Linked DNA regions of Homo sapiens: region 1 is linked to region 2. The links come from fine-mapping of genetic effects on gene expression. A gene starts in region 2. The other region holds a variant in brackets. All regions are shown on one strand. Distances are between the middles of the regions. Region 1 has its middle 140 kb from the start of CD164. Region 2 holds the start of CD164 (CD164 molecule).

Region 1 (15,148 bases), 140 kb after region 2:
CAGGAGCCGATGCGATCAACTGGAAGAAAGGGTATCAGCAATGGAAGATGAAATGAATGAAATGAAGCAAGAAGGGAAGTTTAGAGAAAAAAGAATAAAAAGAAATGAGCAAAGCCTCCAATAAATATGAGACTATGTGAAAAGACCAAATCTACGTCTGATTGGTGTACCTGAAAGTGACAGGGAGAATGGAACCAAGTTGGAAAACACTCTGCAGGATATTATCCAGGAGAACTTCCCCAATCTAGCAAGGCAGGCCAACGTTCAGATTCAGGAAATACAGAGAACGCCACAAAGATACTCCTCGAGAAGAGCAACTCCAAGACACATAATTGTCAGATTCACCAAAGTTGAAATGAAGGAAAAAATGTTAAGGGCAGCCAGAGAGAAAGGTCGGGTTACCCTCAAAGGGAAGCCCATCAGACTAACAGCGGATCTCTCGGCAGAAACCCTACAAGCCAGAAGAGAGTGGGGGCCAATATTCAACATTCTTAAAGAAAAGAATTTTCAACCCAGAATTTCATATCCAGCCAAACTAAACTTCATAAGTGAAGGAGAAATAAAATACTTTACAGACAAGCAAATGCTGAGAGATTTTGTCACCACCAGGCCTGCCCTAAAAGAGCTCCTGAAGGAAGCACTAAACATGGAAAGGAACAACCGGTACCAGCCACTGCAAAATCATGCCAAAATGTAAAGACCATCGAGACTAGGAAGAAACTGCATCAACTAACGAGCAAAATCACCAGCTAACATCATAATGACAGGATCAAATTCACACATAACAATATTAACTTTAAATGTAAATGGACTAAATGCTCCAATTAAAAGACACAGACTGGTAAATTGGATAAAGAGTCAAGACCCATCAGTGTGCTGTATTCAGGAAACCCATCTAACGTGCAGAGACACACATAGGCTCAAAATAAAAGGATGGAGGAAGATCCACCAAGCAAATGGAAAACAAAAAAAGGCAGGGGTTGCAATCCTAGTCTCTGATAAAACAGACTTTAAACCAACAAAGATCAAAAGAGACAAAGAAGGCCATTACATAATGGTAAAGGGATCAATTCAACAAGAAGAGCTAACTATCCTAAATATATATGCACCCAATACAGGAGCACCCAGATTCATAAAGCAAGTCCTAAGTGACCTACGAAGAGACTTAGACTCCCACACATTAATAATGGGAGACTTTAATACCCCACTGTCAACATTAGACAGATCAACGAGACAGAAAGTCAACAAGGATACCCAGGAATTGAACTCAGCTCTGCACCAAGCGGACCTAATAGACATCTACAGAACTCTCCACCCCAAATCAACAGAATATACATTTTTTTCAGCACCACACCACACCTATTCCAAAATTGACCACATACTTGGAAGTAAAGCTCTCTTCAGCAAATGTAAAAGAACAGAGATTATAACAAACTATCTCTCAGACCACAGTGCAATCAAACTAGAACTCAGGATTAAGAATCTCACTCAAAACCACTCAACTACATGGAAACTGAACAACCTGCTCCTGAATGACTACTGGATACATAACAAAATGAAGGCAGAAATAAAGATGTTCTTTGAAACCAACGAGAACAAAGACACAACATACCAGAATCTCTGGGACGCATTCAAAGCAGTGTGTAGAGGGAAATTTATAGCACTAAATGCCCACAAGAGAAAGCAGGAAAGATCCAAAATTGACACCCTAACATCACAACTAAAAGAACTAGAAAAGCAAGAGCAAACACATTCAAAAGCTAGCAGAAGGCAAGAAATAACTAAAATCAGAGCAGAACTGAAGGAAATAGAGACACAAAAAAACCCTTCAAAAAATTAATGAATCCAGGAGCTGGTTTTTTGAAAGGATCAACAAAATTGATAGACCGCTAGCAAAACTAATAAAGAAAAAAAGAGAGAAGAATCAAATAGACACCATAAAAAATGATAAAGGGGATATCACCACCGATCCCACAGAAATACAAACTACCATCAGAGAATACTACAAACACCTCTACGCAAATAAACTAGAAAATCTAGAAGAAATGGATAAATTCCTCGACACATACACTCTCCCAAGACTAAACCAGGAAGAAGTTGAATCTCTGAACAGACCAATAACAGGAGCTGAAATTGTGGCAATAATCAATAGTTTACCAACCAAAAAGAGTCCAGGACCAGATGGATTCACAGCCGAATTCTATCAGAGGTACAAGGAGGAACTGGTACCATTCCTTCTGAAACTATTCCAATCAATAGAAAAAGAGGGAATCCTCCCTAACTCATTTTATGAGGCCAGCATCATTCTGATACCAAAGCCGGGCAGAGACACAACCAAAAAAGAGAATTTTAGACCAATATCCTTGATGAACATTGATGCAAAAATCCTCAATAAAATACTGGCAAAACGAATCCAGCAGCACATCAAAAACCTTATCCACCATGATCAAGTGGGCTTCATCCCTGGGATGCAAGGCTGGTTCAATATACGCAAATCAATAAATGTAATCCAGCATATAAACAGAGCCAAAGACAAAAACCACATGATTATCTCAATAGATGCAGAAAAAGCCTTTGACAAAATTCAACAACCCTTCATGCTAAAAACTCTCAATAAATTAGGTATTGATGGGACATATTTCAAAATAATAAGAGCTATCTATGACAAACCCACAGCCAACATCATACTGAATGGGCAAAAACTGGAAGCATTCCCTTTGAAAACTGGCACAAGACAGGGATGCCCTCTCTCACCACTCCTATTCAACATAGTGTTGGAAGTTCTGGCCAGGGCAATTAGGCAGGAGAAGGAAATAAAGGGTATTCAATTAGGAAAAGAGGAAGTCAAATTGTCCCTGTTTGCAGACGACATGATTGTATATCTAGAAAACCCCATTGTCTCAGCCCAAAATCTCCTTAAGCTGATAAGCAACTTCAGCAAAGTCTCAGGATACAAAATCAATGTACAAAAATCACAAGCATTCTTATACACCAATAACAGACAAACAGAGACCCAAATCATGAGTGAACTCCCATTCACAATTGCTTCAAAGAGAATAGAATACCTAGGAATCCAACTTACAAGGGATGTGAAGGACCTCTTCAAGGAGAACTACAAACCACTGCTCAAGGAAATAAAAGAGGATACAAACAAATGGAAGAACATTCCATGCTCATGGGTAGGAAGAATCAATATCGTGAAAATGGCCATACTGCCCAAGGTAATTTACAGATTCAATGCCATCCCCATCAAGCTACCAATGACTTTCTTCACAGAATTGGAAAAAACTACTTTAAAGTTCATATGGAACGAAAAAAGAGCCCGCATCGCCAAGGCAATCCTAAGCCAAAAGAACAAAGCTGGAGGCATCACACTACCTGACTTCAAACTATACTACAAGGCTACAGTAACCAAAACAGCATGGTACTGGTACCAAAACAGAGATATAGATCAATGGAACAGAACAGAGCCCTCAGAAATAACGCCACATATCTACAACTATCTGATCTTTGACAAACCTGAGAAAAACAAGCAATGGGGAAAGGATTCCCTATTTAATAAATGGTGCTGGGAAAACTGGCTAGCCATATGTAGAAAGCTGAAACTGGATCCCTTCCTTACACCTTATACAAAAATCAATTCAAGATGGATTAAAGACTTAAACGTTAGACCTAAAACCATAAAAACCCTAGAAGAAAACCTAGGTATTACCATTCAGGACATAGGCATGGGCAAGGACTTCATGTCCAAAACACCAAAAGCAATGGCAACAAAAGACAAAATTGACAAATGGGATCTAATGAAACTAAAGAGCTTCTGCACAGCAAAAGAAACTACCATCAGAGTGAACAGGCAACCTACAAAATGGGAGAAAATTTTCGCAACCTACTCATCTGACAAAGGGCTAATATCCAGAATCTACAATGAACTCAAACAAATTTACAAGAAAAAAACAAACAACCCCATCAAAAAGTGGGCGAAGGACATGAGCAGACACTTCTCAAAAGATGACATTTATGCAGCCAAAAAACACATGAAAAAATGCTCATCATCACTGGCCATCAGAGAAATGCAAATCAAAACCACAATGAGATACCATCTCACACCAGTTAGAATGGCAATCATTAAAAAGTCAGGAAACAACAGGTGCTGGAGAGGATGTGGAGAAATAGGAACACTTTTACACTGTTGGTGGGACGGTAAACTAGTTCAACCATTGTGGAAGTCGGTGTGGCAATTCCTCAGGGATCTAGAACTAGAAATACCATTTGACCCAGCCATCCCATTACTGGGTATATACCCAAAGGACTATAAATCATGCTGCTATAAAGACGCATGCACACGTATGTTTATTGCGGCATTATTCCCAATAGCAAAGACTTGGAACCAAGCCAAATGTCCAACAATGATAGACTGGATTAAGAAAATGTGGCACATATACAACATGGAATACTATGCAGGCATAAAAAATGATGAGTTCATGTCCTTTGTAGGGGCATGGATGAAATTGGAAATCATCATTCTCAGAAAACTATCACAAGAACAAAAAACCAAACACCGCATATTCTCACTCATAGGTGGGAATTGAACAATGAGATCACATGGACACAGGAAGGGGAATATCACACTCTGGGGACTGTGGTGGGGTGGGGGGAGGGGGGAGGGATAGCATTGGGAGATATACCTAATGCTAGATGACGAGTTAGTGGGTGCAGCGCACCAGCATGGCACATGTATACATATGTAACTAACCTGCACAATATGCACATGTACCCTAAAACTTAAAGTATAATAATAAAAAAAAAAGAAAATTATACTGAGGAAAAGAAAAAAATAAAAAAAAAATTAGCCGGGCATGGTGGCAGGCGCCTGTAGTCCCAGCTACTTGGGAGGCTAAGGCAGGAGAATGGCGTGAGCCCGGGAGGCGGAGCTTGCAGTGAGCCCAGATTGTGCCACTGAACTCCAGCTTGGGCGACAGCGTGAGACTCCGTCTCAAAAAAAAAAAAAAAAAAAAAAATTCACGCCTGGACTGATAAACTTGTTGAGTTTAAGGATCCTGTCTTATTTATATTTCATACAGCCATTCCATTACTACACTGTGCATCTAAATCTCTCACTCAGTTGGTTAAGGTTCTGATGGGCAGATTAAGCCTCCAGACAAAGGCTGTAGAAGCCAGTTATCATTGAAAAGAGGAACATTTTTTCAAAGTCCAAGGCTTGCGCTATTTAAGCCCAGCCAATTGTTTTCCAAAGGGTGGGTGACCTACATCTCTAGGAGTAACAGACCAACCAGAGAGTAGATGAAATGGTGAAGCATCTATTCTACTAGAAAAACAATTCAAAGAAAACACTGCCATTTCCCCATCTTCTGACCACATCATAGTGCACTATAACCTGGTTTCCACCCCTACCATGCCCCTGAAAGAGTCCTGCAATGCTGCCAATGACCACCTGACCAAGCTGCTTGGTTTTTAGGAGTTCCTTTCTTGACGTTTCACAGAACTCCACAAGTAACCACCCCCTCCTAATTAAAACTTATTTTTCTGTTGGTTCCCACAATACTATTTCTTCCTTGTTTCTCTGGTCTATTTAGTTTCACTGCTTCTTGTTTCATGACCTGCCCCTTAAATGTAGGTATATTACTCAGGGTTCGGGTGTGGTGGCTCATGCCTGTAATCCCAGCATTTTGGGAGGCCAGGGCAGGTGGATCACTTGAGGTCAGGAGTTTGAGACCAGCCTGGCCAAAATGGTGAAACCCTGTCTCTACTAAAAATACAAAACATTAGCCAGGCATGGTGGCGGGCACCTGTAATCCCAGCTACTCAGGAGGCTGAGGCATGAGAATCGCCTGAACCTGGGAGGCAAAGGTTGCAGTGAGCTGAGATCGTGCCACTGCACTCCAGTCTAGGTGACAGAGCAAGATACTATCTCAAAAAGAAAAAAAAAAGTAGGTACATTACTTAGGGCTTCATTTCAGACACCTCTAGCTTCTCCCAGTTGTTTTGATTCATCATTGTGGTTCAACCTCTGCATTCATACCTCAGCTCATACCTGTTCCTGAGCTTCAAACCTGTAGCTCCCCACAAAACATTCACATCTGAGTTTCAGCAAACCCCCTCAAATGCCTTGTTGTCCTAGGGCCTACGTTATTTTCCTGTCTAAAGACACTCTTCCTCTTCCTGGGTTCAGTTTCAGTTAATAGCCTCCTCCCTAATCCTCAGGAAGTTGTTTAAATTCCACCCTTACTCTCTCGCCCCAACTTCCAGATCCAGTCTTCAAATCCTGCCATTTCCACTTCTGCAAAGTATTCTCAGGTCTGTTCCTCCTTCCTATTCTCACCGCCTCTCTGCCTTTCTATTCTTCTATTGTCATTGCATGTCCCCTCCTAATTTTTCAGGTCACTGTTGCAACAACTGCACTTCTTTTCTCAGGGGCTCTCTATTCCAATCCATTCTCTCACTTACACCCAAGATAGCTGTTAAAAACACAGCTATGATCATATTTCTCTCTATGGAAACTCACTAATGGCTCTTCTTTGTTTGTAAGACAAACTCTAAAATAATATAACTAGTAGGTCTTTTACAGGCTGCACCCAAAACACATGTGTGGCTTGTTGCCATCCATCATGCCTTTACATCCCAGCCATAACAGTCTTCCTACCATCCTCCAAGAAGGTAAGATTTTATTTCTCAAAATAAAATCCCCCAAGCTGGTCCTTCCCATTTACATTGCCCTGACATTCTAATGCCATTTCGTCTGCTTAAGAATCTTTTCTTCCCTGCCAGACAATATCTTACTCATGTTTTAGTATCAAGATTAAATATCTATTCCTCTGGAAAGGCTTTCTAGCATTTCTTCCATCGGACAGTGCTCCCCTCCCCCAGGACAAATCTCTCTCTCTGCAGAGTCCCCATGACTCATGAATGTATTCAATTATAAGCTGTTAGTAACTAGATTATAATTTTTGCTTGGAGATTGAATCAACTTTTATAGATGATAAATTCCTTAAAGATAAAGATCATTTTCACTTAGTTATCTATAGGTCCCTGAATGCCTGGAACAGTCCCTGGCGGAGTAAATACTTCATATTTGGTAAGTAAATGCCTAACAATTGGTGATTATTAGAAGGGCTCATAATCCATGCTAAGGGCACAAATGAAGAACAGTAAACCTGCAGTGTTTCATTCATTATTGGGATATGAACCATTCGTGATACAGTGATGATTTAGTAACTTGCTGTTTCATTGCTTTAAACTCACCCTCATAACATTGCACTCAGCACCCTGTCCAATTGCTTTCACCTACCCACATGTGGCATACGCTTCTAAAGGCCATGATCAGGTCAATTTGTCTGTAATTAGCAAAGTGAGCATTGTCCCTGTGACTGCACAATGAGCATGAATGAAATCATCATTCATTCTCACTAAAAACATACATATTATAAGAAGGAATTACGTAGCCCTCTAACAAATAATACCTGTAAGATAAAGAAGTATCTTTCACATTTTGTTTTTTGTGATGAACCTCAGTAAAGAAAATAAAATGTATTACATCCTTATAATTAGCTGAGATTATTTAAATAAAATAATTATTCTCTTGGTTGAGAGCTTTTCTAAAAGTCTAACTGGGTTTTACAAAAACAAACAAAAAACAGAAAAAAGACTGGATTTTGTAAGAATGTTTTTTTAGCAGACATTTTGTCTCCTAGGCAAGAATACCTGGCGCTTGTTTTCCAGAAGAGCTGCTTCCCAAGTCCACGTGTCATACAGCACAGCAAATCTGTCCACATCTGCATGGGCCCATCCCCACTCCTGGCCACTCTTTGGCTGGCTGCCCACTTTGTGACCTGGGAGAAAAGAGGGTGAGAATGTTTAGAGACAGGGCTTCCAAGGAACCTGTTCCAATTAGAAATGTGCCCCTTGGATTATCAGCTCCATCTCAGAAACAGAAATACTGAACCAGTCCCTGGGACAAAGCCTGACTTCATACTTGTTGACTTCTAAGTCGACAGGAGCTTTTGTTTTTATTTTTAAAATTCAGTTTCAAAGACTAATCTTAGAAATAGAGTCAAAATTTAGTTAACAAGAAATCTATGCTAAAATGTCCTTAAACCCACAATTTAAAGGCAAAGTATACATTTCTCCTTCTCTAAAAACAAACCCCTGGGGGTTTAACAACAAACTTAGTTTGACTTGCTATTTCCATCATTGTGAACCAAGTCGAAAATTTTCAGAAACGTTTCCAAGATATTCCTTAATTATGTTAATTACTAACTTAAATCAATGAAGTTAATTTTCATTATTCAGCTGATTTTTTTTAACTTTGTTCACGTTACTTTTCACTACTGGTATTATTATTGCTTTAAATTTTTAACTATTGTATTTCAGAATTAAATATTCAAAGATAAGATACTTTCATGTGCTGAAATTTAAGCTCAATAATTATCACATATCTAATGGGTACTAAGCAAGAGAAAGATGATCAAGAACTTCCGTAGCAACAGTTGGGAAATCATTTCACAATAGATGACTATACATTTACCAGCTCAATTGAAAAATGCCCATGTGGTTAAATGACTACTGACTAAGTGTCTCAGTCCAGTTAAATTCTTAGCAGCTAGAAATAGTTGCATGCTATT[A/G]TAAATTAATATGGACCAAATGGTGCATTGGTTTGTAGGATAACCAGTAAAGATAAAAGCTAAGGGCTGAAATTAAATACCCTGGAATGTTGGATGCCATCATTGCGTCCTATGATTCAGATACCAATGGCAAAGACAGGACAAAGAGTTCAATCCTATATCAAATTAATTCTGTCTAGGATCTGAAAAGTTAGTTGTCAAACTTTCTTTGAGCAGCATTTTATAACAATATGAATGTGAATTATCTTTAATTACAGTCTACACATATTACAAAATAGCACAAACCCTGATTAAGTTTCCCTTTAGGTATTGCAATGTGTCTAGAAATTCTAAGCTCTTTGCAAGTGTAATTCCAATGCTGTCATAGTATCCCAAAAGAATATTCTTACCTCATTCATTTCTAAAATTGGATCGATTTGAGTGATGCCAAAAGGAAGAGAAAATACAGGTTATGGGTTACTTGATTACCCTGAGTAATGATTTCTTCCTCTGGGGCTTGTCTGGCATTTTCCTAGCCAGATGTTCTTGCATCCTAGTGGTTTCCTGTTAGGAACTCAGGGCTGTCTCTGCTGCTAAATGCAGTTTCCTCAAGGTCTACCACTTAGAAAAGTCATTTGTTTCACTTGCTTACTTTCCTTCCTTCAGGGTCCTGCACCACATCCCCTGCACCCAGTGGGTGACGCAGAAATGCCCCTGGGAGTAAAATCCCAATTCTTGGCTTAAGCCTGTTTTAGTCAGAAACCACCCAATTTAGCGTGCAGGTCACCAGAGTGGGTAGAGGGTCAGAGGTCAGGTCTTTGGCCCTGAGAAATGAAAATGCAGGGGCCGTGCTGTCCCTTGTACCTCAGGAGAGCAAGGAAGAAACTGGGCCTTCCCTGGCAGGGCTTCCTGCTCCTGCTTCTGTCTCCACTAGGCTTTCCCAGAAGGCAGCACCTGCTCCTCAGTCAAAGCACCTGCCTCGCACCCCTCCGGCCCCCTCAAGCCCACGATCTGCCTCTGAGTGTTGCACTAGGATTTTTATCGCTTAAAGTGTCTTAATTCTTTGTTCCCTGACACACAAGCCCTCTAGCTATTGAAGGGGAGATCATGAGAAACCTTCCAGGGAACCAGAGCACAGAATGACTGTTAGTTGTTTTTTCAAGTCTATATAAACATTTCAACAGATCACAAAGAAAACATTTATCTCTTCGGTCCTCGCAAGAGAAGTCAAAGGAACTTTTGTTTCTTATCAAGAGCCTGGACATCTTTGTCTGTCGTAACTGGAAAGAGCCTGTTGTACTGAAATCCTGTTATCATGGTGGATTTGATCTTCAGTGGCCAAACATGAAGAATTAAAAGCATAATTCTTGACTGAACTGGTGGGTGGGTTGAACTTTAGGAGTACATGGGCGGTCATTCCTGGCGCACATATCAGTGTGACATGAGCCCTGGAGCATGTCGTCCCTCTCAGCCCTGCTCCTTTCTGTCTCCTGGGGCCCAGTGACTGAGGCCTTACGCTAGAACTGTGTATCATCCAACTCTCCATTTATAAAGGAAACTTCCTGCTGCAACAACAAAAAAAAAAAAGAAAGAAAAGAAATGTCCCTGGTCAACAAACAGAGTCTGAATCACAGCAAGAATTACAACCCGGCCCTGAAAGAGTAGTCACCATCTCTATCAGAAGCAGGGCTTGAGCTGGAAACAGAACTGTGTCTCTCCTAAAGTGAATGCATTTTAGGGGTGGGGGAAGTGTGCGCTTATTGAGTTTTCACATACTATTGGATATGTGTTTATATTTTGGGGTGGAGAGTATTAAAAAGGAGCCCTTAGTGTTTTTTGTTTATTTAGGCAGTTGATTTTTTTTTTTTTTTAAATCTGACTTCTCACCCCTTTCTTTCTCAATGTAATGGCTAGCCACAAGCAGCAACTCTGCCTCTAGTTCCTTGAGATCACTCAAGGCTTCCTCATACATGACATGCACCCCTTGCTGGTCCTGGGTGTGGATGCAGCCAGCTTCTGTGCTGTAGTAGTCATCCTGGTTCTCCACTTCCGAGAACTCCATGAATTGGACGCTGTGGACCTGGAGAAAGAAAGCCAAGCCCAGATGTTACTGGAAAAAGGAGAGCTATATTTTGCCATCCCACATGGACAAGCAGCAGGCTTCTGCTCCCACACAGTGGGCTGCCAGTATGAAGCTGTAAATATTCTGAATGTATAAAAAGCTGTATGCAGAAAACATATTAACAAAGAATATTGGCAGGAAGAGGTAGTTCCTGAGGTGGATAACTAGCTGATTAGTTTGTTTTTCTGACAAATTCAGTAGCAACTGGAGAAAGGTAGGAAATAGAGCCTAGAGTGGTCTCTGGAGTCAGAATGCCTGGGTTCAGGCTCTGGCTCTGCCAGGATCTCATCCTGGGCAGGTCATTCAGCTATTCCCAGCCTCCGTTTCCTCATCTGTAACATGGGGACTGTGGAGACACTATAGACTATGTTAGCTGCCAGGAGTATGTGACTCTATGAGTGTAAGGCACTTGGAATCCTTAAATGTTAGGTTAAAACTATTTTTCTTGTAATTCTATAAGTACTTCTAAAATGTGTTAGCACAGTTTCATGGCTTACTAATGTACTAAGTTGAATAGTGTCCCCCAAAATTCATGTCTACCTGGAACCTGTGAATGAGAACTTATTTGAAAATAGGTCTTTGCAGATGTAATCAAGTTAAGATGAAGTCATACTGGATGAGAGTGGGCCTAATTCAATGACTGTGATCCTTACGAAATTTGGAGACAGACACGTAAGGGAGAAGGTCATGTGAAGACAGAGGTAGAGACTAGGGTGAGTCAAGGAATGCCAAGGATTGCCAAGGGTTGCCAGCAACTACCAGGAGCTGAAAGAGGCAAGGAACTATCACCTCTAGAACCTTCAGAGAAAGCACGGTCCTGCTGACACCTGGATTTTGGATTTGTGGCTCCAGACTGTGAGAGAATAAATTTCTGTCATTGTGAGACACAGTTTGTGGTACTTTGTTTTGATAATCCTAGGAATCGAATACAAGTAAGAAGTATTTCAATCATAATGTTATTTTTCTTAGAAAACTGAGTATCTGCTGCTTCCTGAGAATCGTTATTTTAATAATAATTTTCACAATTTCCAACCTCCACTCTCCTCAAGCCTCGGAATCCCTCCCTCCCAGGCGTAGTCTCCTCTTACTCCCAGGAGGAGCTCCTCTGCGCGCCACTCTCCGCCGCCTCCCCAGGGCTCACATCTCTCCCCTCCTCCTTCCTCCGCACAGTGGAGGACAGTGTTGCCCCCCTTCTCTAGGGCCGCTGCCTCCCACCTCAGCAGCATCCCTGCTCCTTCATGGATATCCCACTCCTCTCCGCTGGACTCTTGACACTGAAATGTGCACACGTCCCTCTCATTGTGAAACTTCCTCACACCCTTCCCCAGGTTCCACTGTGTGGCTCTCCTCCCCCTCACTGTCCAATCTCCCAAGATGTTATCTACAATCTCCATTTCTATTTCTTCACCTCCCACTCTTCAACCCATTCCCATCTGGCCCTTGGCTCCATCGAGCCACCCAAACCACCCTCACTAAGACCAACAATGACCACTGCTCTACATGCAACAAACTTTCTTTCATCATCTTACGTAATCTCTCAGGAGCATCTGATATAATTTAGTGCTTCCTGATTCTTGACTCACTCTCTTCTCCGGGCATCTGGGACTCCACGTTCTCCCTGATTTTGCCTAGTTTCCGGTCATTCTGTCTGACACTGTGAAGTGTATTTATTTTTCTCTACCAAGTCCTTAAATGATGGCCACTCTCAAGCCGCCTCCTAGGACCTCCTCTTTTCCTCCTCTGTTCCTTCCCTAGGAGGTGGCAGACATTTTCATAGCTGAGATTACCACCTTTAGACCATTTGCTCCCCAGTTTATGCCTCCAATCCAGACCCCCTAGAGCTCCGGACCCGCACATCCAATTACCTATTTGGCAACTGCTCCTGGGCATCTCAAAGCCCCCTCAATTTTAACAATGATCAAATCATTAAATCTTCCCCCGCAAACCCAGGCTATCTCCAGCCGATTTTACTAAATAGCACCACCACCCATCCACTTCCTCTAGCATGAATCATTCACGACATCTCTTTCTGCCTCGCCCTACTTGTCCAATCTATCACCAAGTTCTGTTAGTTTTACTTCCTGTCTCTCAAATACATCCACTTCTGATATAGGAGGTGGGTCAGGGAAGTGCTGAGTAGAGAAGGGTGAGGGTTCCACCCTTGGGCCTATGCCCTCAGACCTAAGGGAGAACAGGTACTCCTGCTTTTGTGCCCGAATGTTGCATTTTCCAAGACCACTCTGGCCCACCATCCTGTGCCCATATAAACCTGAGACCTTAGCGGGCACACACGCAAGAAGCTGAATGTTGAGAGGAACAGAGGAACAGAGCAGCAGAGAGAGGCAGAAAGCAGAGCAGCACAACAGAGAAGGAGGGAAGAGGCCTCTGAACGTCCAGAGGAGTTCTGCCGAAAACAGCTGAACTTCAGAAGATTATCTCCCCCACCCCTCCACCTCTAGCTTCCCATCCATCTCACTGAGAGCCACCTCCACCACTCAATAAAACCTTGCATTCATCCTTCAAGCCTGCGTGTGATCCGATTCTTCCGGGACACTGGGCAAGAGCTCGGGATACAGAAGGCTGTCGCACTGGCCGTCTGCCCTTGTGATAAGGCAGAGGGTCCATTGAGCTGATTAGCACTCAAGCCATCTGCAGACAGCAAAGCTGAAAGGGCTTTGTAACACGGGTTGCAGGCACCCACCGCTAGACACTAAGTGGCGCTGAGAGCACAAAGCACTTGCCCTGGCCTCTGCACCTGCCTGTCTGCATGCTCCTCCTTGGGGTTTGAGCGGCAGGGCCATGAAACAGGCGAGCCACATCCCTGTCACACATTCTACGAGGGGAAATCAGGGAACTCTCCCGTTTCACTTCTTCCCATCTCCACTACCCACTACCCTAGTCCAAGCTATTATATTTCATGAGGACTAGTCTAGGAGCTTCTAAACTGGCCTAGCCTCTTAAATGGTCTATCCATGACTCCTCTGGCCTGGGCTTTCCCTCCTCTCCATTTTACTCACTGCTGGCTGGGGAACTTTTACAAATGCAATTCTGATTGTGTCATTCCCCCTTCCCCCTTTTCTATCCCTAAGAGGCTTCCCATGGGCCACAGAATAAAGCAAAACTCCTTAACAGGGCCATACAATCTGGCCCATGCCTATCCCTCTAGTCCAGTGTTTTTCAGCTGAGAGTGATTTTGCCCTCCAGAGGACATTTGGCCATGTCTGGAGATACTTCTGGTTGTCATGACTTAGTGGGAGGTACTGCTGGCATCTGGGTAGAGGCCAGGGATGCTGTTAAATATCCTGTAATGGACAGGAGAGCTTCTCACAGCAAAGAATTATCAGGCCCCAAAAATCAATCGTGCCAAGGCTGAGAAACTCAGAGCTAAGTTCCATTGTGCATCACCTTCCACCTCGTGTCTGTGCCCCAACCACTCCTGTCTTTTGGTTTCTTATAGGTGCCATGATCCCTCTGGCCACAGGTCCTTTGCACAGGCTGTCCCCACTCTGTGGAAAGGTCTCCCTCTCCTTTTTACCTAATTAAAGACTTTTCATTTTCCAACCTCAGCTCAATCGTCACTTCCTTAAAACCCTCCTGCCCCAGCCTCCCTATAGTACCAAGGAGCTCTCAGTCTCTCTTTTGAGGAACTTGATGTCCCTGTTTTACATTCATTTGTGTGATTTTTGACCAATATTTATCTCACCCACTGGATTACAAAGTACTGTAAGGGTAAGGAACATGTCTATTTTTGTTCATCATTTTATTCTCATTGCCTAGCACAGGGCCTAACACATAGTAGGTGCTTAGAAAATATCTGTTAAATAAAAGAATGTATGAATGGTTTTTATATTTGCGCATATAGGTTTCTTTGAGTCTATGATTTGTAATCTCTACTTTTAACATATGCTTTTAACATATGCCTGTGCTTTTAACATATGCCCATCAAAAATCCTGTGTTTTGCCTTCATAGATTCTGATCTCATGTCACCACAGCCTAATACATACATTCTATATGGGGGGATAATGCCCAGGTGGAAAGTGGTTCTTGGAGGACAAAAAAAATCTTATTCTTTTTATATATGAAGCACAGATACACACATTGCACATAAGCAAATCTATGGCATATCTCTGGTGTTAATATTTCTTTGTAGGGGGAGAGTAGGGGAAAAAAAAAAGTTGAAAAAGGTTATTTGTTGGGGAAGCCATAATGGAAAGGAGGTTAAAAAACACTGGCCTAGATATCTATCATCTCTCTCTCTCTCTCTCTCTCTCCTCTCTCTCTCTTTCCTATCTATAGATCTATCTATCTATTCTTATTATTGTAAAATACACATAACATAAAATTTACCATCTTATTTTTTCATGTACAATTTAGTGACATTAAGTACATTCATGTTGTTGTGCAACT
Region 2 (15,148 bases):
TAGTTGAAGAAACTGATTGTTAGAAGGACTCAAAAGTTTACTCCAATGAACTCCACATGTAAGACTTTGATTTAACCAAACTGAAATACACTAATTAAACAGAAGGGATTCTAGATTTTTCCACATCTACAAATAGGACAATAAAGGCCTTCTGATGATTTACACAAAATGCTAAGTTATATGTCTAAACTTGCCCTAATTGCTGATATGGCAAAGTCAAGTACATACGCTTTATCTTATACTAGGCCGTGTGAATAAGGGAGGGCATATCTAAACATTTTTCTTATATGGGGAGATTTGAGGTAAATATTTAAAATTCTATCCAAGGAATTTGTTTGCCCCTACTGCAAACAGTGCCAGTTATTTGTTAAGGAATGGATAATCTGGCAACCTCAGGATTCCAGACCCTGAGTTTTTATACATATTTTAAATGAAGCATTATTTGTTTGAGAACCACCTGTCCAGCAATGTGATGGTCAAATCACTTAACCTTTCACTGTCCCCATTTGTAAAAATAACAGAAGTTGAGTTGCTAGCTTTCTTCTGGCTCTAAAACTTCAGTGATTATTCTGAGGAAACGCATAAAATCAACAATTTTAAGTGAAATGGGGGTACATCTGTCTCAGTGTTCTGAGGATTGACACAGCAGGTGAATCTATTCACAGCAGGTGAATTATGAGAAGCACAGCACAGTGCTTCTAATAATGCTTGGCACACAGCAGATATTCCTTAAGAATTAGTTTCCCTTCAGAAATGTCTCCCCACGGAAACCAGTCAAGCTACCACTGACAGAATATCATCATCCTAATTTCAAGAAATATCAAGCTCTTTTTATACTGAGTATTAGCAGTTCTCACATCAGATTAACTTTCAATCAACTGAACTAGTTCAAAGGTATATCTTTAAAATTAAAATTGGTCTCTACCACACCTAGCAATATTCTCCCTTATGGAGACTCATTTTTTAAACTATATTGATCTTACCATCCCCTACACTTCCCAAAGTGGAATCACCACCACTTAAATCTGGCAAGTCTTAAGACTTTTGTATATCATACGAAATATTGGTGACTAACTCAGTAGTAATGTATACAACATGAATTACAAGTTGCATATTTGATAGAGGGCTTTGTAAGGTGATAAATCACAGGTTCTTTTACTTTAGCATGCATCAGAGTGCCTGGGCCTGTCAAACAGATTGCTGGACCTCAGAGTTTCTGATTCAGTGGCACTGGGTTGGGCTGGAGAATTTGAACAAGTTCAAGGTGATGCTGCTGCTGCTGCTGTTCTGGAGACAACACTTTAAGAACAGATGGGATATATTAGATCTCTCATAGATCTGTGGCACACAGGTATGTAGAAGAGAAAAGTCATAACAGTAAAGTGTAACCTACAACAGAAAAGGAAGAATGAAGGAAACTGACAAGAAACCTTGATTTCATCAAGGCAGCAGAGGAGGTACACATACGTTGACCAATTAGACAGTGACCAGAATTCTGTTGCAAGGTCCTGAGGTTCTTAGCAGGGCCAGATGTGAGACCTCCAGGTGCTGGACAGTGGCAACGTGGTAGTCAGATCCTTAGGAAGGGACTTGGACACTTGGGCCGCTCAGGACACGCACTTTGCCAGTCAGTACAGAATTACTAGAATATTTTAATAACCAGAGTGGCCATGAGGTGTCTTCTGGCTGAAAATCAGCTCTCCAAGACAGGATCGGGAGAAGCACAGTGAATACCTAGGGACAAGGGGAAGCCATAGCTAATCCAAGATATCAGCAAGCCGCCTGAGGTGTAGTTTAGCTTGAACTTGGAGGTTATTCCTAAGGAACAAGTCAGGAAAAGGTTTCATTTCCTGAAGGACCAAGAGACGTAATGCAAAGAGCTCTAGCAGACCCAGGGTTTGAAGCAGAATACAAATAAAAATCATGCATCTCGGGTGCCAGCCTTAAGGGAACCTGGGCTGGGCTCCCTGACTCCTGCACATCCAGGAGGTTTGTGCTGTTTGTATGCTAACCTTACATATGTTTGTAAAGAAAGAAGCAAAAACAGTATATCTTGATGTAATTTTGTAAATGAATCACTGTTAAGAATTGCAGGCCTGGCATGGTGGCTCATGCTTGTAATCCCAGCACTTTGGGAGGCCAAGGGGGGAAGATTGCTTGAGCTCAGGAGTTCTAGACCAGCCTGAGCAACATGGTGAAACTCCGTCTCAAGCAAAAATACAAAAAATTAGCCAGGTGTGGTGGCGCACCCGGCTATTCAGGAAACTGAGGTGGGAGGATCACTTGAGCCTGGGGAGGCGGAGGTTGCAGTGAGCCGAGATTGCGCCAGTTTGACTGAAATAAGCCAGTTTATTTATTCATTTTTTTCTCAAAAAAGAAAAAAAATTGCAGCAGTTCAGGATAGAATAGTTCTGTGCAAGTCATAGTGTAAAGCAGTGTTCTCCAACTTTTTTTTTTTTTTTTTTTTTTTTTTTTTTTTATGAGATGGAGTCTCACTCTGTCGCCCAGGCTGGAGTGCAATGGCACGATCTTGGCTCACTGCAACCCCCACCTCCTGGGTTCAAGCAATTCTCCTGCCTCAGCCTCCCAAGTAGCTGGGATTACAGGCACCCGCCACCACACCTGGCTAATTTTTGTATTTTTGGCAGAGATGGGGTTTCGCCATGTTGGCCAGGCTGGTCTCGAACTCCTGACCTCAGGTGATCTGCCGCCTCAGCCTCCCAAAGTGCTGGAATTACAGGCGTGAGCCACTGCATCCGGCTGTTCTCCAACTTTAATACTTTACACATGTACATATCTTCTGGGAATCTTGTTAAAATGTAGGTTCTGATTCAGGAGATCTGAGGGGGAGGCCTGAGGTTCTGCATTTCTAGGTGATATAAATGATAATGGTTTGAGAACCACACTCTGGAAAGCAAGAGTAAAGCACTGGTTTTCCACCTAAGCTGCAGATTAGAAACACCTGGGAAGCTTTTAAAACTGCTGATGCTCAGACATTACTCCAGACCAATTAAATCAGTACCCAGGCACTAGTATCAATATTTTTCAACACACACCACCACCACTGATGTCACTAGGTAGTTCCAATGTGCAGCCAGGGTTAAGAACAACTGCTCTAAAGTGTAATGCTCCCCTCTGGCGCCCTGGCACACTTTTCAAAGAAACATCCACAGTCAAAGTGGAGAGCCTCCTAATGACAATATCTCCAGAATTTTACCCTTAATCTTAATCACAATATTAAGACTCTGAATATACAGTTTTAGCTAATATTTGATTTATTCCAATCCTTCTCTTTGTCAAAACAGATTCAAATACTACTAAATGAGCTTTAATATATGCTGTTAAAACTGTCTTACAGATGCCAGCCCTTGTTTCCCACCCATACTCCTCTAGATGAATCTACCCTGACCCACAGCTGAAGAGTTCAGGGAGTTATTTGTAGCAGCTGCCCTCCTACGCTTTTATTTTATTTATTTTATTTATTTATTTTTTTTTTTTTTGAGGCAGAGTCTCACTCTGTTGCCCAGGCTGGAGGGCAGTGATGCAATCTCGGCTCACTGCAACCTCTGCCTCCTGGGTTCAATAGATTCTTCTGCCTCAACCTCCCAAGTAGCTGTGATTACAGGTGCTTGCCACTACGCCGGGCTCCTCCTGTGCTTTTTAATGCAGCTAATTTTTGGCAAGGGTGGACAACTGACTGAAATAAGCCAGTTTGTTCATTTATTCATTTTTTTTTAATTAAGTGCAGGGAATAAACTGGTGAGCACTATTTCTGAGTTAATCTAGTGAGAAAGACAACTGCTATATAATGCAGTATATGCTTTGTTATGGGCAAGTCCAGGGTGCACAGAGCAGGAACACCTTTTGTAGTCTGGGAGTGGGGAGAAAGGGGTAGTTGAATATTTTAAGGATAGCTTAAGATGGGAGTGACAGCTTAGCTGAGAGACCTCAAACAAGTAGGAGTTGGTCAGATGCCAGAAGGGAATAAGAATGTTCTAGGCAGAAGAAATAGCATGGATGAAGATCCACATGCAAAAGAAAACATGACCAGTTAGGAGAACTGGAAGTTCAGGGAGCTCTAGTGTAGACTGCATGGATGGAGTCAGAGCAGAGAGTAGGTAACAGACAGGTTGGGAAGGCATGGTACTCAGTCAAGTTATCTCTTCCAAGAGCTATATAACTGGAATACTGGGCAATGGAGATGATTGGCTGTGGGTCTATAGATCTGGCAATGTCCTGTAGGGTTGAAGCCTGAAACGAAGTCCTAGCAAACCAGCTCCACGTGCTAGGGATTCCTCCTTTTAAGTTCAAGTCTCCCTTGGCCCTCACACACTTGATTTCCCACCCCTGAATGCCTATAAGATTTACTGTCATATTCTTACAGTGAATGGATTCCCTTTAACATAAGCTAGTACAAGGGGGTTTGTACTTCTTGCTATCAAGTAGTGGAGGCAAACCTCTGATTATTAAGGGGCCACTGGATGTTAGTTATAGCTAGAAGGCAGGGTCCTGTTTGGAGTGTTGATCTGTTTATTTGGGGAAAGGTACTGACACAAGGCTGAAGCATTGTTTAAAAATCTGCTGTTTAAAAAACTTAGAGGGAGCTTATACTGCTAGAAGATTCACAAGCGCAGAAGCACTCTGTCTTGCTGCTTTCAAGAAAATAAATGGTTAAGAAGGTCGCTCTAACAACCAATCGACAATCTAATTGCAAGCAATGTGTCTAAGAGGAAATAACCTGAGTGATGGCTGACCTTGCACACAGAAGAACGCTCTGAGGGTGCCTTTCAATTGTGATTTTACCCCCAGGAGACATTTAACAATATCGGGAGATATTTTTGGTTGTCACAACTGAGAGGTGGGGTGCTTCTGGTATCTAGTGTGTAGAGGCTACGAATACTGCCGAATATCCAACAATGCACAGGACAAGCAAGAATGAGTCAGCCTGAAATCTTGATAGCGCCAAGATTGAGAAACCCTGCTCTATGACAACAATAAACAGAAGCTTACTGTCAGGAACTGAAAAAAAAAAAGCTGTCTCTCTGAAATGGTGAAAATGACTTTGGAACTCCCTTGATCTACCTCTACAGTTGCCATGCAAAATAAAATAAACCAATGGTTTTCTAGTCTTAAAACAAGAGCGTGAAATGTCCCTTTATCAGGACTGAGGAATATCTGAGGACTAGAGTTAAACATCCAGGTGACAAATTGTTAAACAATGGTCTGCACAGAGGAGTGTGTTTATCCTAGGGTGGAAAGAAGATAACACACCAAGCTCTGAGAACAGAGCTTCTATTTACATTTTTTTTTTTTTTTTTTTTTTTGAGACGAGTCTGGCTCTGTTCCCCAAGCTGGAGTGCAGTGGTGTGATCTCGGCTCACTGCAACCTCCGCCTCCCGGATACAAGCGATCCTCCTGCCTCAGCCCTGCTAGTAGCTGGGATTACAGGCACGTGCCACCATGCCCGGCTAATTTTTGTATTTTTAGGAGAGACGGGGTTTACACCATGTTGGCCAAGCTGGTCTCAAACTCCGGACCTCAGGTGATCCACCCGCCTTGGCCTCCCAAAGTGCTGGCATTACAGGCGTGAGCCACCGCGTCCGGCCCCTATTTACATTCTTAACCTTAAAAAAAAATTAAAGTTGCCTTGCGCTTTCATTTGGTCTGGGTGCCAGATAGTCAAGTGTTAAATATAGAGAGAGGCCTCCTGAGAGAAGAGCAGACACTTCTCTGAAGGGCTTATGGTGGGAGCTCACTTCCCTGACAGCATTCTCATGCTTCTGGGCTGGATCAGTCAAAACTATCAGCTTTTTGTTTACATCCAAGCAACACTACTCCAACTAGCGTAGTCATTGGAACAAATGTTCATAGTCCTGAGGGTACAGAAGGACGACACTGAAAAGATCCCAAGGGGAAATAAAATCTTTCTATTTGAGCAAAAAGGTAAAAGCACTATGTAGTCATCTTTTTTGGCACATCAAAAAAGTCATCGTGGCACATCAAGACAGACCTCACGAAAGCAATTAATATTCCTATATTATTAGGATAACTTTGCATAATTAAAATTACATAAGTGTACAACAGCTGAAAACACAGCATTAAATACAACTTTTAAAGTCTAATTTTTACCATGTGATAACCGTATCAAATTTTGCGAATATTTTGTGAGACTTGGCAGTAGATGGCGCTCACCTTTACTAAAAGTCTGAGCAGCGCCTTAACACTAACAGGAACTTAAGAATCCAGCTCTGATGTCAGGCAATCCCGTGTCCAGGTCAGGTCACTTTTTTAAGTCTCAGTTTCCTCACTGGTAATGTGGGGGTGGGGGCCTCCCCAATGACCTCGCAACTCAGACCGCTTTTGATTCTCTGACTACAGTGGTGGAGTTGAGACAGGTCGGCTGCTGCAACCGCCGTCTGAAATAGCAATCCGGAAAAGTCAGGTTGGGAAAGTGACAGAGTAGACGCCCTGCGGCTCTGATCCGGGCGGCGCCTCAGCTGCCCACACTATGTGGGCGGCAACGCACAAACTCCTTAACCACGTGGTGCCTCCATTCCCCTAGGGAGTCCCATCACAGGATAACTTCTAGCAAAATCAATCTTCAAGAAAAAAAGAAGGGGTCCTGCCGAAGATATAAGGAAGCTCCCTGGGGATCCCGCAGCACAGCACAAACTTAGTTCTTGAGAGCCGCACAAAACCAACTTCCGCCCCAGTGGAGTTGCGTCCGGAAGGCGCGGCCCCGGAGGTCACGTGGGCCCGCGGAATTACAGCCTGGCGGGGCGCTCAGGTGGAAGCAGTAGGCCACATTATGTCGACTGTTCCATGCAAGTCAGGGTGGGGGCCGTCCCTATCGCAGGCATGAGACAAGTCCAGCTGCGTCGTGTCTGGTAATCTGAGGGCAAGAAGAACGATTTGCAGAAGCTCCCAGTTTTCTTGGCTGTGGCACAGTCGCTTTGAGGGCCAGGTTCCTTCGGCTTCCTCCCGACTCCCCTGCTTCCCCCCGTAGGATTCCCGTTGGTATCGTCCGAGCCCCACCTCCCTCCTCTTCGCCCCCGCACGCCGAAAACAGGGGCCTCTCACGTGACCCCTGCGCGCTCCCGCGGGGGAGCGTAGTCTCGGAGGCGGCGCCGCAGGGGATTGAGGGGTTGACTGAGCGTTGCGAGCCTTAGCTTTCTCCCGAACGCCAGCGCTGAGGACACGATGTCGCGGCTCTCCCGCTCACTGCTTTGGGCCGCCACCTGCCTGGGCGTGCTCTGCGTGCTGTCCGCGGACAAGAACACGACCCAGCACCCGAACGTGACGACTTTAGCGCCCATCTCCAACGTAACCTCGGCGCCGGTGACGTCCCTCCCGCTGGTCACCACTCCGGCACCAGGTGGGCGCGGGCCCTGTGGGCTTCCCGCCCTCCCCTGCCCAGCCGAGCCGCACTGCCTCCTCGCCGTGCGGGCGGGGCCCGGGTTCGGGCCACGGTCGGGCGGGCGGGCCGCGCTCGGGGTGCGGCGGCGACTCCGGCAACATGGCGGCCAGCCTGGAGTCCACTCGTGGCCGGGCCGGGTGGGGAGCGCGCTGGGGGGAAGCGGACGCGCGGTTCCCAGTGGCTGCGGGGCTGGGGCCCCCCTCGAAGTGTTGCAAGTCGAGGTGCCTTTTAAAAGTGCATCGTAATTCCTAGCCTCACTTGGGGTCGGAAATGGGGACGTGGCTTCCTTCCGCGGGGGCAGCGGTGGGGTTGAGGATGGGGCCGGGCGTCGCGCCTCTGAGGTTGGCGGTGGGGCCGAGCTGCCTCTCCCTGCCACTGGTTGTTCACCCTCCCGGCGCCTCTCTCCGGAGGTAGCCTTCTCCGGAAGTCCGGGAAAGAGAAACTTAAAGACGGTAATGCTCGTTCGTGTCTCAGACTTGAGTCTGAGAAGGTCGCTTGAGATTTAATTACATTGGTTTTGCAGATAGGAATAGAATGTAGCTGACGTTTGAGCACGTAGTTAGTGAAAACTTCACACTTCAAAGTATGCGAAAAGGAAGAAAAGTACCCATGTATGTACCGGGTGTTTTGCGTACGTATCCTAAGGCTAAACTGGAAGGTAGGTAGTGAAACCTAGGAGGTAGATGCAGAGACGGAGATGAGTAAACTCTCCTGACATTGTATGTTTATTCTTTTTTCAATTGTTTTTAAAATTTTCTTAACTATGTCCTGTGCTCAGATAGCGTATGTTTAGTAGGTCGTGGAACGGGGGTTTGTGCCCAGGTCTGTGGGTTTTCTAAAACCCGATCAGGAGCGTGTCTTTTGTTATGTGCAGTCGCATAGGGCTGGTTAAGGCATACATACATTTTAAAGCAGAAATTGCCATATACCGTGACAACACAAAAGAGAGAAGGAAGATAAGTTTGAGGTAATAAGCGGGAGAAACACTAGAGGTTTAAAACCTGCAGTCTCGTATGATTGGTTATTCTAGTTAACATTAGTTAAGGAGTAATGTTTACGTAGTTAACATTGGCTTCTTGACCGAAGAATGCCGAAGTGTAATGATTTTTATCACGGCATTCATATTCTACAAATTCTCCTCTAGTTTTAGTATTTTATAAAAGTTTAATAAAGTATATAGTAAACTTAATGTTTTGTTTTTAGTTTAAGGAAGATGTAATGGTAACATTTCAAAACGAGGGAAGTAAATTGCAGTATAATACTGGGAATTCTAACCGCACTATTTTAAGATGATAGAGCAGAATATGTTTGTCTCAGTCTTAATTTGACAGTTTCCTTTCAGAATTGTAGTGTGTGTGTAAGAGAAGGTTGGAAGTATCAAATTAATTTGTCTTTGTGTAATTGAAGTGCGTGCAAAGGAGGTATGTATTTTCTGGAAATCATAAGTGGATGTAGTGTGGTCTGAAAGGTAGCAAGTTTAGTTCATTGTAAAGAACATTTCAGACATTTCACTTTGCTACACCCGTCAAGCACAAAGGTTTTTAAACAGCATGTTTTATCTATACAAACTTCAGAAAATTTATTTTTACTTTATGAACCCTTCCCCACCCCACCGTACATGTCCCAGTCTTTAATAAGTACTAATGATGAAGTATTGAAAGCAGTGCCTCTGCAGAACTATTTTTTAGGCAGGAGCAAAGCAAACGAGAATGTTTGGAGGCATCTAGTTTCTAGGAAAATGAATGGAGCCCAATTCTTTTTTTTCTTTTATTTTGCTGCTTTTTCTCACTGGAAAATAGAGCCCAATTTTATAGTCCGTTCTTCTCCAGAAATTGAATTATGGTGATGAGTACTTGTTTCTGGATTGTTTGGCCTAGGATGAACTATTGACAAATACCTTGTTAACCTGAATTGTATGCACTTGAATATGGGCTTTTAGATGTTGTCTCCAGTTGTGGAGGATCCTGTCGAGAGTGGATCATTTATGAATCGAGAATCCCTGGGAAATTATCTTTGTTTGCAGCAGAATGGGCATCATCAGTGCTTGGGTTCAACCTGTTAAACTACTACTGTTACTACTAAAAATCTCAGGGTTTTATCTGATGTTTGGGGGTAGTGGTTTTCCTATGTGTAGTGTTGGTATTATATCAAAGCCTTTTTCTCGATATTTTTATGTATTAAGGATGCTTTGAAATGCCTAAATCCTTAGTGGCTGTGGGTGTCTTCCAATAGTTGTCCTGTGAAAAAGGATTGGTTAGACAGATACCATCAGGCACTGTACTGAGAGTGACCACTAGCTTGTTTTTCTAATGCGTTTACTTACAGCTTTGTAATGATTGGAATTTCTTAGTAAACCAGTATAAAGTTTTATCATTTATCTGAATTAGTAATTTTGATGCTGTATGTAATGCTTATTGTTCAAAAAGATAAGTAATACAGATTCAAATAAGATACTAATAAAATCATTGATTTCATGCATCTCTCCCCCCAACTCCCCAGAAACCTGTGAAGGTCGAAACAGCTGCGTTTCCTGTTTTAATGTTAGCGTTGTTAATACTACCTGCTTTTGGATAGAATGTAAAGGTAAGAAACTTTGGGGATGCAAAACTGTTTTGTTATAGCATTTTAAAATACAGTAATTCTTGAACACTTGAAAGTTATGTAGGACATTTAGGATATTGTGCACTATTTATTTTGCAAATCCAGTACTCCTTTAAAGTGCCAGTTGCCTCGCACTCCCCCTGAAAATCTCTTTTTGTCTCCCATCCTCCCTTTAGATTCCTTAAGACTTGATAATTAAAGCTCAGTCGTTTGTTTTTTATGAGATGGAGTCTCCTGTGTTACCCAGGTTGGTCTTGAAATCCTAGGCTCAAGCAATCCTCCAACCTTGGCCTCCCTAGTAGCCAAGACTACAGATGCGTGCTTCCTCACCTGGCTTTTTTTAAAGCCTGTTCTAAGGATTGAGAGTACTTTAATACACTGGAATTAGCTGTGAGTGAAGGTTGTGTTGAAAACTGTGTCCTGCAACATGAAATATAAAGAGACCTTATGAAACTGTTGGATGCTTAGGTGTAGAGAAGAAAGAGGTAGGGAGAGTTGACTTCCTGTGCTTTTGTTAATACAAGAGGTAGAGCGCTAAAGGGACGTACATTGAAATTCAATAAGATTCTTATTAGAACCATATTACTGCATACATTATTTTAATTGTTTTTTAATGTAAAGTGGTTGCACTTATCAGTAAAACAATCTAGTTGTTTTGGCGGTTTTTTTTTTAAGTAAAAACAAACCATAAGTTTTTTTATTTGGTAAAAATTTTAATAGTTCTAGAAATTATATCACTACATAAATTTCAAAAAGCTCTTTAAGGTATTAACTAAATTGGGCCAAATTAACTTTTTTGTTATAGAAGTGTCTCTTTTTTTTAGGTCATAAAATGGGATTTAAGGGCGTACTCTTTCCCCTTTATATGGGAGTATGTAAGAGTTGGTGAATTTTGGAGATGGAATGCTCTACTTTAAGATTTGTTGGGAAAGGTTCTCCCCTTACTCTTGTTCCAAGTCTACCTATCCAGGAAAGTTGTTTTAGAAAGTATAGAAGACTAAAGCAGTGAGATTTGGAATAGAGTTTCTACAGTGTTATGGGGTGCCTCATCTGTTTACTAACCTCTTAATACAGACCCTGACCACTTCAACTTACTGTCTCCGCCTTTTTTTTTTTCCCTGAGACAGAGTTCTGTATTTTTGGTAGAGGCAGGGTCTCACCATATTGGTCAGGCTGATCTCGAACTCCTGACCTCAGGTGATCTTCCCACCCTGGCCTCCCAAAGTGCTGAGATTATAGGCGTGAGCCACCTGCCCACTTTTTAGATGATGGCTGCCTTTCTTGATTGTACAGTAGTCTTCCCACAATTCTGAGATCTAAGTGTTGCAGATTTATTTTTTCAGTATATTAATGTGGATTTTTAATGGATAAAAGTTAGAAGGATCCTGCGTAATCTCTAAGTCAGTGGGAAAAGGAGAATGACAGGGTTTGGTCTGTGGGTTTAACTTTAGGTCAAAACACCTAAAGTGGTTCCCCCTGCCCACTTCTAAAGTGTTTGGGTTTGATTTCATAGAGCTTAGTAGCAGAGTCAAAGATAATACAAATGGGTGGTTGATGCTGTTTGTCTCTTTTCCCCTGCCCCCCAACAGATGAGAGCTATTGTTCACATAACTCAACAGTTAGTGATTGTCAAGTGGGGAACACGACAGACTTCTGTTCCGGTAAGTATTCATATTGGCTGCTTGGAAGCTGACCGCAGAGAGGTGAGGAAGATCATTGCCTCAGAAAGCCTTGTTTCAGTGCTTTGTTTGAAGCATTGCCATAATTCTCATCTTGTTAGAATTGGAATATGAATAGTATATTCATATTGATTGATTAAAGGATGATATTTGAAGCTTGGTTTAGTGATTTAGCTATAGTGTGGATGCTGTAAGTGTGGATGCGTTGTCTGCCCCCACACTTTTTTTTTTTTTTTTAAACTTTTCTAGGAATTCATCACAGTTTAGCCGCTATGTTTGCATCTTGCAGGTCTGGGAAACCTCATTCTGGCACTTTTGGTGTTGCGATACTGGGGATTGTTGATTGATAAATTTATTCTGCAGCATAGTTGGTGCTGTGGTTAAATGAGCTTTTCTATACCCATCCATTTTCTGTATTTTAATCTGAGTAACTTGATTAATTTTTAACCTTTACTATTCGTCCAGCAAAACGTTAAAATTCTACTTGAAGCTGCTGATTTTTCCAATGAGATTGTAAATCAGTGGGAAAGGCATATTCCTAATTTGATGCATAGATAATAATTGAATAGGAAAAAGATTTTTGTGCAGTGTGTCTAACCTTGAAAGACTACCTTTGACTCTTTAATTTTGGTAGGGGTTGCCCCATCCCAATGTGAATTTTGTAACTGAACATTTCATTAGTATTAGATCAGTTTTACTTCACACAGGGTGCATAATATAGTTAGGTGGTACACGAACAAACTTTTTTTGAGACAGTCTCTTTGTTGCCCAGGCTGGAGTGCAGTGGCACAATCATAACTCATTGCCACCTCATATTCCTGGGCTTAAGCAATCCTTCTGCCTCAGCCTCCCCAGAAGCTGGGATTACAGGTGCATGCCACCATAGCTGGCTAATTTAAAAATTTTTTTGTAGAGATGGTGTCTCACTATGTTGCCCAGGCTGGTCTTGAACTCCTGGGCTTAAGCAGTCTTCCCACTTTGGCTTCCCAGAGTGCTGGAATTACATGCTTGAGCTACTGGACCTGGCTGAAACATTTTAAGTAATTACTTTAATATGTGTTAGATAAACTAATAACTGTCAGACCTGTGGTTTTGTAATATTGCTTAGAGACAAGATTAATGAAGATTTCATTAGTATTAGAACGTTTTTGAAAACTGATTTAAAGGAAAACTGTATTTGTACTGCTGCATATTTGATGATGTACCAGTTAGAATTAGTTTCAGCTATGAAGGACATAAACCCCCAAATTACAATGGCTTAAGCAGTGGACTGATTTACTTTTCTCTCATGTAAAGGAAGTCTGGACTAGAGTTCAGCTCTGCAACCATTAGGGACTGAGGCTTCTTTAGGTTTTTACTCTTTCACCTCTCAAAAATGGCTTTGACCCTACTGTCCAAGGTGGGTCCTTATGTTCCAGCCATCACATTGATTATTTTCCTGCCAGCAGGATGAAGAAGGGAATGAAAGAGGCTTGTATCTTACTTTAAGGATGCTTCCTAGAGGTTATGCGTGATGGCCTGGAAGCACTGGAGACTAGGAAATGTCTTTTCAGGAGGAAGGGAGGTGTTGATAAAAATTGGTGATTCTATTTCTAAAGAAGAGACTGGTATTTGGGGGCAACTGTCAGTCTCTTCCACAGGTAGTATTTAAGTGTTGTAAAAATTGTGAAAAGTACTCAAATGATTGCAGGTCAGGAACTAGCGTTATAGATTGTGATATTTTAAATAGCTTTGATGTATATGGTTTTTCTTTTTTCTTTTTTTAATAGTTTCCACGGCCACTCCAGTGCCAACAGCCAATTCTACAGGTAATTCAAGATGACTGTTTTCTTCCTTTTCCTTCAGTATTTTTAAGCTTTCTTGATGGATTAGTTTTAAATAATTATGTAAAAGTTGTTAGTATAATTTTAAAGATGAGTAAAAACTTAAAAGTCTTGGACCACAGCAATTAACGTTAATCTCTACCTTTTGTGACAGTGACACATAGCTCCAGTGTTTTATAGTCGGTGAATGTGAGCAGATTTGCTGAGGCTGTGTACATTGAGTCTATAAAGTACTTTTTATAGATTTAGTGGAAATCTTGGGAAATATAGAAGCCTAAAGCAAATTATAATTCTCATCATCCAGAGCAACCAAAATGTTTTCAGTGATTAATTTCTTCTAGTCTTTTTTATGTGTATCTAAATAAATACACTTTTTATGAAATTGTACGATAACGTTCATGCACCTTTGTATTTCTTTTTTTCTTTTCTTTTTTTTTTTTTGGAAGCGAAGTCTTGCTCTGCCGCTCAGGCTGGAGTGCAGTGGTACGATCTCGGTTCACTGCAACCTTCCCCTCCCAAGTTCAAGCGATTCTCCTGCCTCAGCCTCCTGAGTCGCTGGGATTACAGGCACCTGCCATCATGCCCAACTAATTTTTGTTTTTTTAGTAGAGTCACGGTTTCACCACATTGGCCAGGCTGGTCTTGAAATCCTGACTTAAAGTGATCCGCCTACCTCAGACTCCCAAAGAGCCGGGATTACAGGTGTGAGCCACCGAGCCCAGCCTGTATTTTCTCTCTTAATGTAAGCATTATGGTATACACTTTACCCATCCTGCTCTTGATTAGAGAATTAGGCCGTCTCTCATTCTCCATGCAGTGAACATCTTACATGGAATTGCATTTGTATTTATCTCTGATAGGTTTGAGTCAAACAGAATTTCTAGGTCAGAGGGTATGATTATTTTAAGGCTCTCCAGAAAGATTTATTATTTTCATTCCCATCAACCTGGAAAGTTTTTACCGTGCCCTCAACAGCATGGATAAGAACTCCTTAAAATTTACTAACTTGAGAGGAAGAGTAAATATTAAATACTTAACATTTTACCAATATTAAATGCGTCTATTCCAAGACAAGTACTAGGGTAAATGGTAGGGTTAAGCCAGCATTTTGTCTACTGTAGGAACAATGAAAGATCTCAGTGAGCACAGCGTATTGGGAAATTTGTAAGAAGGAATGTGTATTGGGTGGGATGCAGATGTGGTGATAGCTTGGTAGTGAAACTGCACTGGAAAACTTGGAGAGAGCCTCTGAAGTGGAGCAGCGGGTCAGCACATGCGGAGGAGATGTGAAGTAGTACGGTGAGTTCAAAGAGTGTCCCATCCTGTACAAGGTGAGAAGGAGTTAAGCTGGTCCATCACCAGTTGCTCACCAGGTGAGCAGAATTGGGAAACACCTTTGTATGCCTTGCTGGTAGACTTAGATGTTATCCTGAAAGATTTTAAAGTTTATAGGTCATATGATCAGACTTGCATTTTAATAAAACAACTTATTCTGGCATTGTGGAGAGTAGATTGGAACGATGCCAGAAGGAACTCAGGAGATTAGATAGCCTGTTACAATAATTCTAGAGAACAGATAGAGGTGGGCTGCAGATGTTTGCAAATAAGTTTAGGAAGTAGAAGGGGTA

What was found.
Region 1: its variant is fine-mapped to the expression of CD164 in fibroblasts (GTEx, PIP above 0.99).

Annotation. Positions count from the first base shown.
Region 1 is chr6:109,234,878-109,250,025 of GRCh38, reverse strand. It overlaps the pseudogene CCDC162P. Among named protein-coding and RNA genes, the nearest start is that of CD164, 140 kb to the left of the region's middle. RefSeq lists an enhancer at 7,239-8,438. The variant A/G (reference allele first, on the strand shown) is at 8,640.
Region 2 is chr6:109,374,431-109,389,578 of GRCh38, reverse strand. CD164 (CD164 molecule) reads left to right here and starts at 7,112. Exons shown (of 6, transcript NM_006016.6): 1 at 7,112-7,375; 2 at 9,917-10,000; 3 at 11,608-11,679; 4 at 13,467-13,505. The coding sequence starts at 7,201. RefSeq lists enhancers at 6,495-6,724, 6,805-7,154, 6,710-7,219 and a silencer at 7,375-7,654.